2 separate regions of the Homo sapiens genome follow, and region 1 is linked to region 2. Evidence: fine-mapped expression QTL. Tissue or cell type: thyroid. Region 2 holds a variant in brackets; the other region holds the start of a gene. All regions are shown on one strand. Distances are between the middles of the regions.

Evidence for each region. PIP is the estimated chance that this variant, and not a neighbour inherited with it, causes the effect.
Region 1: it holds the start of SLA, and the variant in region 2 is fine-mapped to the expression of SLA in thyroid (GTEx, PIP 0.96).

What each region holds. Positions count from the first base shown.
Region 1 is chr8:133,099,482-133,107,581 of GRCh38, reverse strand. SLA (Src like adaptor) reads left to right here and starts at 4,980. Exons shown (of 9, transcript NM_001045556.3): 1 at 4,980-5,029. All of the region lies in intron 43 of TG (thyroglobulin), which reads right to left.
Region 2 is chr8:133,468,176-133,476,265 of GRCh38, reverse strand. ST3GAL1 (ST3 beta-galactoside alpha-2,3-sialyltransferase 1) reads left to right here. Exons shown (of 10, transcript NM_173344.3): 5 at 192-547. The coding sequence starts at 242. Among named protein-coding and RNA genes, the nearest start is that of ST3GAL1-DT, 98 kb to the left of the region's middle. The variant C/G (reference allele first, on the strand shown) is at 4,903.

The sequences.
Region 1 (8,100 bases), 370 kb after region 2:
CTTCATGATTGGCGAGGCCCCGAGCACAGATGCCATTGCCAGTTTAATTAGAGAGTCAGCAGGCGGGAGTGGGGGCCACCGTGTGACTGCATGTGCTGACTTCCACAAGCTGTAATTACAGGCGGGGTCTGCCTTAGACAGTAGATTTGTTACAGGCAGGAATTACACAAAGGGCTGTCATGAACTGGCCACTCCTTGGTGTGTGCTTTTAAAGGACTGCCATTAACACATCCTAATGAAAAGTAAGAGCCCTTGGAAACACCGAGGGACTGAGCAGGGCCTCAGCATCAACCTGAATGTCTTGGGGCCCAGTGGATTGAATGTGAAATTTGGCATTTGAGAGACTCAGGTTCAAATCTAGCTCTATTCTGTGGCCTCAGAAGATTCACCTCCAATGAACAAATGTGTTCAGTGGATATGCCTGTCTGTGCCTTCATTTCAGGTCAATAAAATGGGGTTGATGTTAGAACGAAATGCATTAATGATTATAAAGAGGCTGACACATGGGAGACAATAAATATGACTTCTCTCTTCCCTCTAGTTAGTAAATGATTAAAAAGAAAATCAGCAAGGCAGGTGAGAAATGCCCTTTAGTTCACGCCGAGTGGTGTCTGAGAGACACGATGAGAACACATGGCTGCAGGCCCTTGCTGTTCATCCTACCGTCCCTTCAACAACTATGCTCGGAGTGCCTGAGTATGCCAGGAGCAGCTCGAGGCATTTGGGACACATCAGCGAACAATCGGGCTGTTCTCTGCCTGCATGGGGCTTCTAGTTCTGTGAGACAGGCTGACAATATACAGCACATCTATGTGATATGGACTGTCCTGGGGTGATAAGGAACAAGATTCGTGCATAGAACAGGAAGCCGGAAAGGGGACGGGGGTGCTGGGCAGTGAGGGTCCCAGTTGTGCCCTAGGGAGCTGGGTTAGGCAGCGTGGAGGATGGTTGAGTCCAGACAAGAGAGGGTAGGGTTCAGACATGCGGACAGCTGGGTGAGGGGGAGCAGCGAGGTCCACGGGGTCAGTGGAGTGATGAGGGCAGAGGAGCAGGGGAGAAGCCAGAAAGAACAGAGGGCTGGGTGGCTGGGAGAGCCTCACCCTACCTTTTGCTTTTTTGCTTCAGGCGGGACCTGGGAGAAGAGCTTCCCCATCCTGGTTTGCAAATGTGACCTGCCAGAGAGCATGGAACACAGAGCAGGCCAGGCTGGGTGTCCTTGCATTGGCCCCAGGCACTGCAGAGCCTCAGTAAGGAGCCGACTGGCCCCTCAGCGCTGCTTCCCCCTGGCCCTGCCTCCTGCTGCAAACCCCAAGGCCAGCGCACTCTGCAGGCCACACTGCCCTCTCCTCAGGGAATGGCCCTTCCTCCTCTTGGACTGAGGGCCCTCCATCTCTCTGAGGCTCAGTCTTTGCTGCCCACAGCCCTGGAGCCCCTCGCTGGGCAAACCCCCCCACTGGCTCTTTCAGACCTTCAGTGTGCAGCTCTCCATGAGTCCCACCCCCACCTAGAGCTAAAGTGCCTGCCTGGCAGTCCCCAACAGGAGGGTCTCCTCCATCTGCTTCATCCAGGTGCTCTCAGCTAGATGTGCACTCCAAGAGCATGTCTACATGGTGGGCTCCAACTGTCCTATAGCCTCTTTACCATATGGCCATCTGGCTACCCCAACCTCCATCAAGGTCACTGATAACCTTGCAGAGGTCCACCAGTAGACGCCCCATCCCCCACCTCTCCATCTCCTCCTCCCAGTCAGCTCTGCCTCAGCCTAATTTCTGGAACCTCGTTCTGCTGTCTCTGACTACTCTTGAAAGCCAAGGCTCCCAGCTGCCACCCTGTCCCCTTTTCCTCCCATTCTGTCCACGAATGCTTGTGGGGTGGGGCCATTTCCTCTCCTTGCTTGAAGAATGACCTATTAAGCTAATGATTCCCAAATCTCTCTCCAGCTTGAACCTCATACCTTCATATAAATGCCTCACATCACCTGGAAATCTCTCAGGCCCCTCAAACTCAACCTAGGCACAATTTATCTTCGTCATCCATATGTGTTCTTCCTCACCCCTAGAACCTTCTTCCCCTGCTATTTCCCTATCCTTAGTGACTAAGACCAGCCCTCAATTACCTGATTAAAACACAGGTATTTCCTGATTGCTCCTAAAATCATTCCCCTCTTCCCCTACATTTTGCTGTAGCCTGTGCCTACGATCTTCATCCTGAGTGACACCTGCCCCCACCTCCGGTCCACCCCTACTGCTGTCCTAGTTCACAGCACATCTCCTCTACCACACTGGGGCAGAAGCAGAGATGTTGCTCTTGGCAGGGGCTTAGGGGAGGAATGGTTTGTACACAGACAGCCTGTAGTCAATTTTTGCTCATTGATAATGCTCCAATTTTTGAAAAATGGTTGTAACATCACAGGTTGGGGAAGAAGGAGACACAGAGCAGAATCCCCACCAGAAAAGTAGGAAGCCTACCAGAGTTCACCTGCTTCTTGCAAGATTATATGAATGGATGAGTGAATGAATACACAAATGCTCCAGAATTCTCTAGAGCTCTGAGGTAGATGGAGACACAACACTCCTTTGTTCATTAGAGGGACATGAATTGAAGACCAACCTAGTAGGAACTGAGGATTCCAAATGGACATGACACAATTCCTGTCATGGAGCAGAGCTTGGTGAAGTCAGTGGGGTCAGCTGGTGAATGAGCAAAGTGCTCTGTGAATCCTGGGTGGCCGTTTGCATCCAGTGGAGAGCATCATTCAGTGGAGACAGGGTGGGTTTGGGAAGCAATGTGACCATGTCCTCACTTCCCCTCTTCCCCCAGCCTATTCCAATCAGCCTTTCCTTCCCGTTACTCCACTGAAATGGCCCTCATCAAGGTCTCCCATGACCTACAAGAGCCCAATCTCTGCCCTCATCTCTCTTGACTCTGTGACATTTGACTTTTGCTTCCTTTTGGAAATGCTTTCTTTTCTTGGCTATTGTGATACCGCATTTTCTTGGTTTTCTTCCAAAGCTGTATCTACAGCCCTGACCTCTCTACTGAATTCCCAACTCATATAGTCAGCTGCCAACGCGAGATATATCCCAAATCTGATCATTTTTTACTGTGACCATGTCTGCAACCCTAATTTAAGTTACTAGCTCAACCCCTGGATTTCCACAATAGAGCCCAATCTGATCTCTACTTCCTGGGTCACACATCTCCTTAGTCAATTTTCCATATAGCTGCCAGAAATGTTCCTTTTTAAAACAGTGGATCAATATAATCACCTTCTATTATTAGCTTGAAACATTCCAGTAACTGCCCACTGCAAGGAGAATAAAGTCACTTTTCTGATGGCCTGAAAGATCTCATAACTGGTCTTCTTCATCCCTCTGACTTCCTCTCCTCCCAGTCCCTCCACTGGCCACTGGATCTCCTAGCACTGACCTCCCTGTGACCCCCAAACAGCCAGGACCACTCCTGCCCCAGGGCCTTTGCACCCACTCTGTACCTCAATCCCCATCGCTGGCTCCCCATTGCTCAGGCCTCAGTCCAGAAGTCACCTCCTCCGAAAAGCCTTCTCTGACTGCCCCTAAAGTAATTGCCCCATTCCATCGCCTCCTCTGCAATGGCCCCACTTCAGTGTTCTTCAGGGCATTTCTAAGATCTGAAATTCTTTATTTACTTACATCATCTGTGTCCTTTCATGAGAACATGAACTCTCCGAGTCAGAAGCTTTATCTGTTTAGGTTACAACTGTGCCCTCTAAAGCCTAGAGAGAGTCCAGCGCACAGAAGCCTCTGAATAATCTATGTTGGAGAGATGCTGCATGGGTTAATGCTTGAATGACTCCTGACTTCACTGCTCCTTATGGTGTTAAGGGACAAGGACTTACTTCTCCATCAAGCACAGCTTGCTCAGGGCCAAGGGCTCACTGCACTTTTAGGAACTCACAAAAGTCTTTTCTTTCTAATTTCTTTTAAAATCAGAAGAAAAAATATAATAATAATGAAAATGTAATAATGAATCCAGCCTGGTTTACATTCATCCTTATAACAATGCAGTCATGAAATACAATATTTTAATATTTTGGGGGGGACAAGTCAGTCCTTCTGATCCTCAGCTTTCTCTGAACCATAATCCCAGCTCACAGGGCCCCTGGGGAGAATTAGACAACGTGACGTGTAAGCGTCAGCTGTGAGGGGTAATGTGGGGCTATAGCTCCAGGGTGGAGGGTTTACAGTGTGCAAGGGCATCCTAGAGCCATGAGACCTACAGGGCTCTCTGGGTGTTGGGAGATACCTCTTTCGCTTCTTATAACACTGCAAGAGACAGACAGGGTGGCTCTCACTGTGTCCATTTGAAGGCTAAAGAAACTGCAGCTCAGACCAGTTCAGCAACTCTCCTACATCGTGTGGCTAAAGCTAAGAATTGTGACCCATTTTTCTGAATCCAGGTCCCCGCGATGCCCTGGGTTCAGACCCTAACACCCTCCCGTCCCTGAGTGCTGGGGATTTAAGGCAGCAGTGCCTCCTTTCAGGAAATCACACACACACTGGAAACTCCTGCATACTCCTCTTACTATAATCTGTCACCAAAGACTGGATATTCCTGTGCTGGGGCTCGTGCCAGCGCCTCGGGCTGCCAGGTGCTGCTTTCCAACTCCCACATGGGCTGCCCTCCCCCTACTGCTACCCACAGGGCCCCCACTCCACCTGCTCCCAGACGAGGCCAACTCCTGGCCAAGCTTAGGGGCACAGCGGAGGCGCTCTGTTTCTGATTTTTCTCGCCTTCCTTGGAGATGCCTGTGCTTGGAAGGGAAGGCAGAACATTGCATCTTGGAACAAATCTGCTTTTGATCATGCAAATGAATGCCTGGATAATGTAGGCAGACTGTCAATTTCACCAGTTAGAAAGAAAGAGAAAAGGGGGAGAAATTCCCCATGACAGCGACTGATGAAGAATTTCAATAGAAAGCTGCTACTTCAGAAAATAAGATCATTTGCTGCGAATGGAGAACATCTCAGGCAGCCCTGATGCTCCACCGGTAGGTTGCTAACTTTGCTGTCATTGGGACCCCCTGGGTGGGCCATAGGTGGCCTGGGGTGGTATGTGGGGGAGGGTCTTCAGAGGGACTTGATGGATCCTGTACCCACCCTCCGTCTTTGGTCTGAAGAAAATGGGTGGGTCTCTGCTGGTGGTGAGTAGCTCCAGGGGGCAGGACTTGGGGTAAGAGGCTCCACTCCTGTCCCTCCGTGACTTCCCTGGGAAGCTGCACTGCATGTGTTTGTGGACTGGGATCCAGCTGATACTTATGCAGCGTTGGCATGAGTAGAGAGCATGCATTTGTGTTTACTACAATTTGGAAAATTGGTCTCAGGTCAGCTGAGGTGGTTCAGAGATTGGACGTTCTTTGTATTCCTGCTTTCTGTGTATAATTATCTGAAGAAGGGATAACAGCTTTGGACACTAATCTTAATATTAAAATTAAAAAATTAAGGGAAAAGAACGAACATTTATTGAAGCCAAACTATTTTCCAGATATTGTTGTGTATTTGAATTTTTGAACATCTTTATGAGGATATTTACTAATCATCTCCCAACTTCACAGATAGGGAAACTGAGGCTCAGACTCTGGGTAACTTGGATGCTCGTGATTGCAATCCAAGGACACCCAGGACACTCTCCCTGCTGTGTTGACACATGACCAAGGGAGCGGGGTCCTGGTCAGTTCCTGGCCATTGTGTCACTCCAGCTGACAGTGCTGCTATGGGGCCCAATGGCACCTGATCTCCACCTCCTGAGGTCTTGGAATAGATGTCCATCTCTCCATATAGTATGTATCAATGGTGTTTCAGTTGTTTGCCTTGTCTGTTATCATCTGACTGCAAGCCCTTCTGAGGGGAGGAATTCAATTTGTATTTTATGCTGAAACACCTGGCCCAGCATGACTAAACAAACAGGTGTTGGTGTTACAAAAACATGCTGGACACCCTGTTTAGGTGGATGTGGCAATTTACTGCAATTGATATGTCCTGTTTCTCAGCCCCAGATGGGGCAGGAGGGGCTGGGTGGGTATCAAAGGACAGAGGATGGAGTAAAAGGCATGGCTGAGATTGAGGCCCTCCAGAACCTGCCATCTTCAGGTCCTCCTTGGCTGATGGTGGTTGGACCCAGGTGCCATGGAGCCTTCTTGGGGCAAACAGAGAAATGCACAAGCCCAACTCTAAATTCAGGTTGGGAGTGGGCTGAGGCAAGGGAGGGCAATACAAGGGCACATTGGGTTGAAGTCCAGAGGAGTTTCCTCACTGTTGGGAGGGTGGGAGCATAGCTCATAACTCAGTTTCCACTTGGTTGTCCACTGTGCCCTCTTGCAGTTCTGTGTGGGGTAGAATCCTGAGGATCTCTCTAGGTGATGCTTGCGTATGGTGGGGGTAAGGTGGTGATAGCGCATCCCTGACCTAGTGTTTATCACAGATAGGGTAATGGGTAGAGCCTGCCACCCGCCACCCTCCCCACTCCTGCCCTGCAATTGGGGTCAGAGACCTGCAGTGGAGACTTGGCTTTCCAAAGGACTAGTTAGCTGACCTAGAGACACCCGGTAAACCTCACTAAGCCTTTCTTTCCCAGAAAAAAAATCGTGTTAAATACTGGTTCATGGTTCCCTACCTCACAGCCATACAGTTGAGATAACGTAAAGTAAGAGCATGAGTTACTTCACTTAGGCTAACCCCTAAGGCTATTGAAATTTTAAAATTATAAATAAATCAATAAATGACTACAGAAAAAAAAGAATGTGGGTAGAATTGGAAAGCCCTTTGCACATAGTAGCCTTTATTCTAGCTGGGTTTGTGTACATTTCAGTACCCAGCATACCGTTGATGGTAGATGGAAGGCTCTCAGAGGAAAGCCTGGCTTTTCCCAGAGTGACGTCATGGGAAGAGGATATTTGGAGGCAGATAGAACTGGGTTTTAATTCTGGTTTCTCTCTGAAAAATAGTAATAATAATCCCCACCTCATAGGGTAATAGTTGTGAGGGTGAATTATTTCATTGAAGACTTCCAGGTTAGGGCCCAGCACATAGTCAGTTCTTCATAATTTCATTCATTCATCCTAGTGAATGTCTATTGTGTGCCTGCTGTGTGCAATTTGTCTAGCAGAACTAGAAACATTTCTAGGCACCAGAGATATAGCAGTTTCAAACATTCTAGTTGGGGAAGAAAGACAACAGACAAATACATAATATGGCAGGAGGTTTGAGTGCTGGGGTAGGGTGTAGGATGTAGGGATAGAGAAGGCTGGGGATATGGCTTCCCTCTGAATCCAAGTGGTCAAGCAAGGTCTTTCTGATAAGCAGACCCTGAAGGGAGTAAGGCAGTGAGTTGTCTGGGAAGAACATTCCAGAAGAAAAAACAGCAAGTACCAGGACCCTGATATGGGATGTGCTCAGCCTATTTGAGAAACTCTAAAGGGATAAACCAGTGAGCCAAGAGGGAACAGCAGGAGTTAAGGTCAGAGAGCTAACAGAGGTCACATCAAATAGGCTCTGGCAGTTCATAGAAGACTGGAATTTTCCTCTGCATGAGAGGAGGCCACTGGAGAGAAGGCTTGGAGCAGAGGAGTAAAATGGTCTGACTTATAAAGGGATTGCTCTGGCTACTGTGCTTCTCATAGATTATAAGAGGCAAGGCAGGTGCAGAGAGAGAGTTGGGGGCTAGCACAAAAATCTCAAATAAAGTGGCTGGATCAGGGTGATAGCAGAAGAGGTAGGGGAGCAGGGTTTGGATTTGGGATACATTTGGAAAATACAGCCAGCTGGATTTTCTGATAGAATGCTGGTAGGGTATGAGAGAGCAGTGTCAGGAATGACTTTTGGTTTTGAGCCTGAGTACAGAAGGATGAGTTGTTTAGTTGCTGAGTTGTTTACTGAGATGGTGAAGACTACAGAAGAACATGCTGGTTGGGGATGGGAGCAGAGGTGGAATCGGCAGTCCACTTTGGGTGTGTTATGGATGAGACACTATGAGACATGTAAGTGAAGATGTCAAGTGGGCCATTGGCTAAACCAGTTCAGAGTTCAAGGGAAAAGTCCAGGAGGAATAAATCTGTGTGCAGAC
Region 2 (8,090 bases):
AAGCAAAGCCAACATGCCACGAATGGCGTTGGTCTACCACACAGCCGTGTCTGGGACACAGTTGGGGGTCATCCCCCAGCAGGAGTGAAGTCGAGCTTAGCGGCCCTTGTGTCCTCCCTTGGAATTCCTGCCATCCCTTTTGATTGAGCCTCCACCTCTGGGATTTTTCTTCCATTTTTCTCCTCTCTTAGGAGGGAGTTCCTGCTACCCATCGTGGGAGGCCACCATCAGGACTGCGAAGATGGTGACCCTGCGGAAGAGGACCCTGAAAGTGCTCACCTTCCTCGTGCTCTTCATCTTCCTCACCTCCTTCTTCCTGAACTACTCCCACACCATGGTGGCCACCACCTGGTTCCCCAAGCAGATGGTCCTGGAGCTCTCCGAGAACCTGAAGAGACTGATCAAGCACAGGCCTTGCACCTGCACCCACTGCATCGGGCAGCGCAAGCTCTCGGCCTGGTTCGATGAGAGGTTCAACCAGACCATGCAGCCGCTGCTGACCGCCCAGAACGCGCTCTTGGAGGACGACACCTACCGATGGTGGCTGGTGAGATGCTGCCTGAGAGCGGGGTCTGGGCTGAGAGTTGGGGTGTGGACTGAGAGTGGGGTCTGGGCTGAGAGTGGGGATCTGGATAAGAGTGGGAGGCCTGGGCTGAAAGTGGGAGTCTGGGCTGAGGGTAGGGGTCTGGTAATGAGAGTGAGGTGCTCTCAGAGTTAAATGCTCAGTCCCCGTGTACACCTGGGGCCCTGCCAGGCAGTTAGTAGGATTCAGATTATTGTCCCACACTATTTATTGAGGATCTATTATATCTAAGTCAGAGCAGGAAGCACGGCTTTAGTTTCCTGTGGCTGCCATAACAAATTTCTGCACAATTCATGGCTCAAAACACCAAAAGTGCATCCTCTTGCAGCTCTGGAGGCCAGAAGTCTGAAAACAAATTATGGGCAGACTTGGCTCCTCCTGGAGGCTCTGAGGGGGAAGCCGCCCCAGGCCCGCTCCTGGCTCCTGCCAGCTGCCGGCAGTGCTGGGCGTTCCTGGGCTCAGAGCTGCAGCAGTCCAGCCTCTGCCTCCACTTCCACAGGGCCTTCCTCCCTGTATCCCTTTATGTCTCACATGTCCCTCTCCTTTTCTTATGAGGACACCTGTCATCAGGTTTAGGGCCCACCCTAATCCAGGATGATCTCATGCAGAGATCCTCAACAATTTCACCCACAGAGGCGCTTTTTCCAAATGTCATGCTCACAGATTCCGGTGACTAGCACTTGAACGTATCTTTTTGGGAGCCACTATTTCACCCACTACAGCTATTGAAATGCAAAAAGAGAGAGAGATCCTTATTCTCATGGAATTTTATTCTGGCTGGGAGGGGAAGATAAGAAATAAACAAGGTAGGCTCACACAGAAGTGCTTTGAAGACAGATCCAATGAGGTTTGTCATAGAAACTTAGAGGGGGCTTCTGTAAATGGGGTCACCAGGGAGGTCTCTGAGACAGCAGGACTCAAGTTGAGACCCACAGGCAGAGAAGGCAGCAGCCATGAGAAGAGCAGGACCATGCACTGCAGGTGTCTGGGACAGCGGGTGCAAGAGCCCGAGGGTGGCCTCTGCTGGATGTAATGGGGAGTAGAGGAGCTCTGCATGGCTGGGGGGCTGTAAATCAGGGGAGGTGCAGTGAGACGAGGCCTGAGAGTCAGCAAGACCCAGGGGAGGACTCTGGGATTTCTTGTAAGTGCAACAGGAAATCACTGTAGAATTTTTGTCAGGGGGTTTCATGATCTGATCTTGTCATTTGAAAGGTCATTCCCATGTTAAATGCAAAATAGATCGAAGAAGAGCAAGATATATGTGTTCATGTCTTATTTATTGAGCACCTACTATATGCCAAGCATCACTACATTGAGATGGAAAAGATAGAGTCTTTCCTTTCTTGGGTTGCAGGAGTGATGGGGAGAGAAGGGAAAACAGACAAACTCAAGCCAGGACCATAGGTGCTGTGCAGGAAGTGGGCACAGGAGCGATGGTCTTCATGTCCAACTCCCCTTGGAGCCTGGGGTTATCGCAGAAGGCTTCCTACAGGAGTGATGGCCAGGTTCATCATGAAGGATTCAGAGAGGTTATCCAGGTAGATTCTGGGGAAGGTCTATTTGAAATGAACAGAAAACATGTGTGAGACTTAGAAAGGTCAAAAGCCCTGGGCTATGCTTCCAAAGACCTGGCTGAGTCCTGGTTTGCTAATCTGTGTTGAGCACCACTGTGTGCAGGTCCTGGGGTGGGCTCTGGGGAGGTAACAGAGAACCGGGCAGGTAGGGTCTTTTCCCTTTCAAAGATCCAAGGGTCTAGGGAAGGAGGTGGCGAGCCAGGCATGGTAAGGATTAGGGTCTGCTCTCAGCCTCAGCACTATGGACTTGTGGGGCAGGATCAGCCTTAGTCACAAGGGCTGCCCCGTGCATTGCAGGATGTTTAGCAGCATCACTGGTCTCTACCTACTAAATGCTAGGAGTGCCCCATCCCCAGTTGCGATAGCCAGAAGATCTCCAGACATTGTCAGGTGTCCCAGGTGGGGTGTGCGTGTGTGTGGGTGCACATGCATGCACAAAGTTGCCCTCCCTTGAGAACCAGCAGGGTTGGGAAAATGACACATTGATGGCAGAGGTGGCTTCACACACATCCCATCTCCTCTCTGGATCTGATTCCCCCTGTAGCAGCAGTTGCTGGGACCACGTTAAGTCCAAACTTCCTCTTCAGAGCCTGGAGTCTGTGATGTTCAGTGTCACCATGGGATTCTGTTTACAAAGGCCTTTTGGGGACAAACAGGGTACTACACAGCCTGTTTATATAAACCAAACAGGAAGGGACCTTACACAACAGCAGGTAAAGGAGAAACTTGGGGGCCTTTGTCCTCATTTTACAGACAAGGAAACTGAAACTCAGAAAAGTTAGGTGACTTTTGCAAAAGAGAACATCAAATCCAACCTCTGGAAATACCGTATTAAAAACTGTTATTAGAGAGTATCACCAAGACAGTATCGATCTTTCTTCTTGGGGAGGGCGGTTTCTAAAACTCTTAGGCTGGTGTCGCCCAGGAGGGTTAAAAAGGCGTAAGGGAAAAACATCAGCTTCTGGATATAAGCCATGTGTCTTCAAAGAACACAGGCTATAATGTAGACTTAGGAACTGGGGCCTGGCATCAGCGTTCCTAGGTTTTGTCGCAGAGTTTGTAGGTCCCATCAGGAGTGACTTTGAAGAAGCTCTTCATCTCACTGAGTCTCAGCCTCCTTCGTGTTACATGGGAGAAATGTTACTTCACCAGGTTCTCTACAACCCTGCAAACATTAGTTTTAACAATTGTATTTATTTTTGTTGGTTTAATGGGCAAGTAATACTGAACTTAGGTGGGTTTTTTTTTTTTTTCAGTACTAATTAAGGCTGAATATATTTCCACTTAGTTGTTTCCCATTTACCAGATGTCTTCCCCTACCTGCAGCCCTTCTCTGCAGTCTTTTTCTGAAGTTTAGCCTCTGGTGGCTGATCCCAGGGCAGCCACTTGGAAGGAATGGGGCTTCACCCTCTGGAAATCAACAGAAAGGAGCAGGGCTTTAGAGCTTTGGGGTTCTAAAAAATGCACAGATAATACGGAAACCACACGCTTTGAATAAAGAATCGGGATACAGGCATGGAATATCTGACAACAAAGCCATCCTGAGAACTCCAGGCTGCGCCATTGCTCTGCTTAAAGGCCCCCCTGCAGGCAGGACCATTTCATGAATGGAACTGGACTTGGGTCATGATATGGTTTGGCTTTCACCCAAATCTCATCTTGAATTGTAGCTCCCACAATTCCCACGTGTTGTGGGAGGGACCTGGTGGGAGATAATTAATCATGGGGGCGATTTCCCCCATACTGTTGAGGGGGTTGGAAGAATCTTAGGTGAGAATGTGAGGTCCCGAGCTCCCATCCTGCCCTGAGCTTCATAGTCCTCCTCAGTCAAGTGGGCATCACAATTCCAGCTCGTCCCAGCCCTGGCAGGAACAGGGACACAGGAGCAGTCACCAGGGCTCACTCTTTTAGTTGAGTTGAGTTGAGTTGAGTTAAATTGAGTTGAGTTGAGTTTACAAATCAGCCCCGTGCCCTGCAAGTGAAGAGACTGCACCACCATCCCAGGCTGGACCTACTGACCCCTGTGACCCTCTCCTCGGGTCTCTGTCCCAGACACCCAGGAACAGGGATTCCTTCTTCCCCAGTCCCCATGTCCAATTCAGAGACAAGCCATGTCGAATGCTGACTCTGCCTTCTCTACTTGCCCCCAACTTGGGAAACCGTTTTGTGATACGCAGGGGACATTCTCAAGGGACAGAAAGAGTGCGACCCTCCCCTGATTTCCGCCCCCTGCCCTCCTAAGGCATCTTCCCATCCCAGACATCCATGCCCAGTGCCCAAATGCAAAATAATACCATCATACTGTCCACCCGGCGCCTAGCACCAACTCTGGCCAGGTCCTGGGCCCAGCTTTCCAGGTACCACTGCTTCGCCCTTACCACCCCCACCACCAGGAGGGTGTAGGTATCTCATTGTCCTCACTTTGCACTTACCAGGTCACCCACTGTCAAAGGGCACAGTCAGATCCCCTTGTAGTTAAAGGACATGGTCTGGAGTCAGGCCCAGGATATTCAAACTGTTTTGGTCCTGGGAAACTCACTTCACCTCTGTAAGCCTCAGTTTCCTCACCTGTAAAATAGGTCTATAAGATCACCTTTCTCATAGAACCATTATAGAAACTCAGTGAGAAGCTGCCTATCAGGTTATCAGCACAGGGTCCTGCATAGGGCAACCATAGAACATGCGCTTCTGCTCAGGGTGAGCCATCTGAGTCCTGCACGAGCCATTTCTAAGCACCGCCTGTCC[C/G]GGCGCTAACCTGTCCACCCCACCTGTCCACCCCACACGGCACCGGGGATGTGATAGGGGCTCAGTTGTGATGAGTTGAATGAATGAATGTGTGTTAGCTTTAGCAGTTGTCATTCACTTATTCAATGGACATATCTTGAGCCTGTACTACCTAGCATGCTTGTGTCTGCTGCTTGGATGCCAAAGGGGCCAGGGAAACCAACAGCAGCTGGGGATTGGAATGAGGCCTGCGGTGAGGCCCCAGTGGTGCCACCCATGTGTGGAAGGCCAGAGACTGATATTTCCAGGGTCCAAGGGAGGCTTCTCAGAAGGCGATGCATCATTCATTGGCCGTGGAAGGAGGAAGGAGGATGGGAAGGGAGCGCGGGTACCTCTTCCCAACACTCTCGGGACGGGTGTGGCCTGTGGATAGGGAGGACTTCCAGCCATCGTGCCTCAAGACAGGACAAACTCTGCCATAGCACAGGCTCCAGAGTTCCTGTGGATCATGCCCGAGTGCAGGGTGAGGTGAGGCACCCAGGGCTCCAGCTTCAAGGAGATGTCCGCTCTCGGGCCGTGCCCCTGGGCATGAGTGGGCCTCCTTATCCCACTTGCCCGACTCCTCACTCGCCTCGCCCCCAGCCTGCAGTGCTTGACTCCATGGAGACCTCCCCTTCCTTCTCCTGCCTTGCTTCTCATCCCTCTCCAGACAGCACCCACCATGGACACCTGCATCCGTGCCCCAGCCTCTGCTTCCAGGGAAGCTGACCCGAGGCCCCGTGCTTCCCAAGGAGCTCAGGCCACCAGGCGGCAGGCATTGATTGAGCGCTGATTGTATGCAGATTGAGCGCTGATTGTATATACTTGGAAACTAGTCTGGAAGGCTGGAGAGGGCGTGTCCCTGAACTTCCAAACACTCTGTCCTGTGTTCATATCAGTAGCACTGTCATACTTTTTTTTTTTTTGGCATGGAGTTTCTCTCTTGTTGCCCAGGCTGGAGTGCAATGGCGTGATCTCGGCTCACCACAACCTCCGCCTCCTGGGTTCAAGTGATTCTCCTGCCTCAGCCTCCTGAGTAGCTGGGATTTCAGGCATGCACCATCACGCCCAGCTGATTTTGTATTTTTAGTAGAGACCGGGTTTCTCCATGTTGGTCAGGCTGGTCTCAAACTCCTGACCACAGGTGACCCACCCGCCTTGGCCTCGCAAAGTGTTGGGATTACAGGCGTGAGCCACCGCACCTGGCCAGCACTGTTGTTCTTTTATTGCCACTGACAAAAGGCAGAGAAAACCAGAATATTTCTTTCCCAAAACAGTGACGCCACATGGAGTAACCTGCCTGCTCCATCTCAGCTGGTGTGGGGAGGACTTACTATGATAATCTAGAGAAAGAGCCAGTTTCCCATCTGAGCTCTACCTGGCCCTGCACTCACTCTGGGACCTCAAGTGAGCCCTTTCCAGGGTCTGGGCCTCCATTTCCCCTTTTGCCAATGAAAGATTGGAATGGGTCTGAGATTTCTGAAGCGTGGGGCTTGTGATGTTAGGTGAGGCAGGGCACTAGAGAAAGTCGCATCACAGAGCCCGGAGGTCATTTCTGCCGTCCCTCCTTCCCACCTGTCTCTGCAGTGCTGGGGCTTCAGTTTGGCCTGGTGTCTTACTTTGCACCTTGTCAGCGCTTGTCAGCCTTGTTCTAAGGGAGAGGAGAGTTTGCCTGGGCAGGCAGCAGGGTAGAGCTGCAACCGAATACAGTAGTTTTGTTTTCATTGCATTGTACAACTACCATTTTACTTCTGCCAGGTAATTCTTGCTTTCTACGTGTGGTAGAGATGAGAGGTTTCCTTTCTAATAAGTTTATTTTTATTATTTGGCCAGGCATGGTGGCTCACACCTATAATCCCAACACTTTGGGAGGCTGAGGCGGGTTCATCACCTGAGGTCAGGAGTTCGAGACCAGCCTGGCCAACATGGTGAAACCGTGTTTCTACTAAAAATACAAAAATTAGCCAGGCACAGTGGTGCACACCTGTAATCCCAGCTGCTTGGGAGGCTAAGGCAGGAGAATCCCTTGAACCCAGGAGGTAGAGGTTGCAGTGAGCCGAGATCGCACCACTGCATTCCAGCCTGGGCGATAGAGTGAGACTCCATATCAAATCAAATCAAATCAATCAATCAATCAATCAATTTATTTTTCTTAAATAAGTCATTAAAGAAAAGTAAGTCAGTCAGAGTCCAGCAGGATGATGTGGTGCTGTGTGAAGCAGGCAGCATACTCTCCACACACGTCCATGGCCGAGCTTGAGTCCTGGCTTCTCAGGCCTCTGTGGCACCCAGTAGACACTCAGTAAATGTCACTGCATGATGGATACACGGTGCCAGGCTCCCAAATCAAAGTAGCGGCGTGATGGAAGGCCACCCCCTGGGCCTGGGCACATCTTTACAAGCCTAAGGGGCACAGCAGCCCTTGCTAGTTGGAGACCTCCATGGAGGTTCAGGGGAGTCTGGCTGTGGTCCTCTACCCTGGGGCTCTCAGAGTGTAGTCCCCCCACCAGCCCTGGCAGCAGCATCACCCAGGAGTCTGTTAGAAATGCAGGATTTCGGGGCCAGCTTTAAACCTACTGAGTAAGATCTGTGCCTTAGCAAGCCTCCAGGGGGTTTTCCGCACATTCAGGATCATGGAGCCACCCTGGATGATCCCATCAGAATCAGGCATTTTATCTGGATATCACATCTGTGTGTGTGACAACATATTCATAATATTTATCATTTTCACCACTTGTGTGTGTACGATTCAGTAGCATTAAATATATTCACAGTGTGTGTAACAATCACCATTATCTATAACCATAACTAGCAGATTTTTGTCATCCCAAGCAAAAACTCTGTCCCCATTAAACAGTAACTTCCCCTTACCTCCTCCTCCTCCCAGCCCCTGACAGCCACGCTGCCACTCTCTGTCTCTATGAATTTGACTACTCTAGGTACCTCACATAAGTGGAATCATATAATATTTTTCCTTCTATGTCTGGCTTCTTTCATTAATCATAATATTAGTATTTTCAAGGTCCATCCATGTTGTAACCTATTTCAAAATTTTCTTTTTATAGCTAAATAATATCCCATCATATGTCTGGAACGTACTATGTTTGTTTATTCATCCATCGCTGGAGACTGGGTTGCTCCCACCTTTTATCTATTATGAATAATGCTGC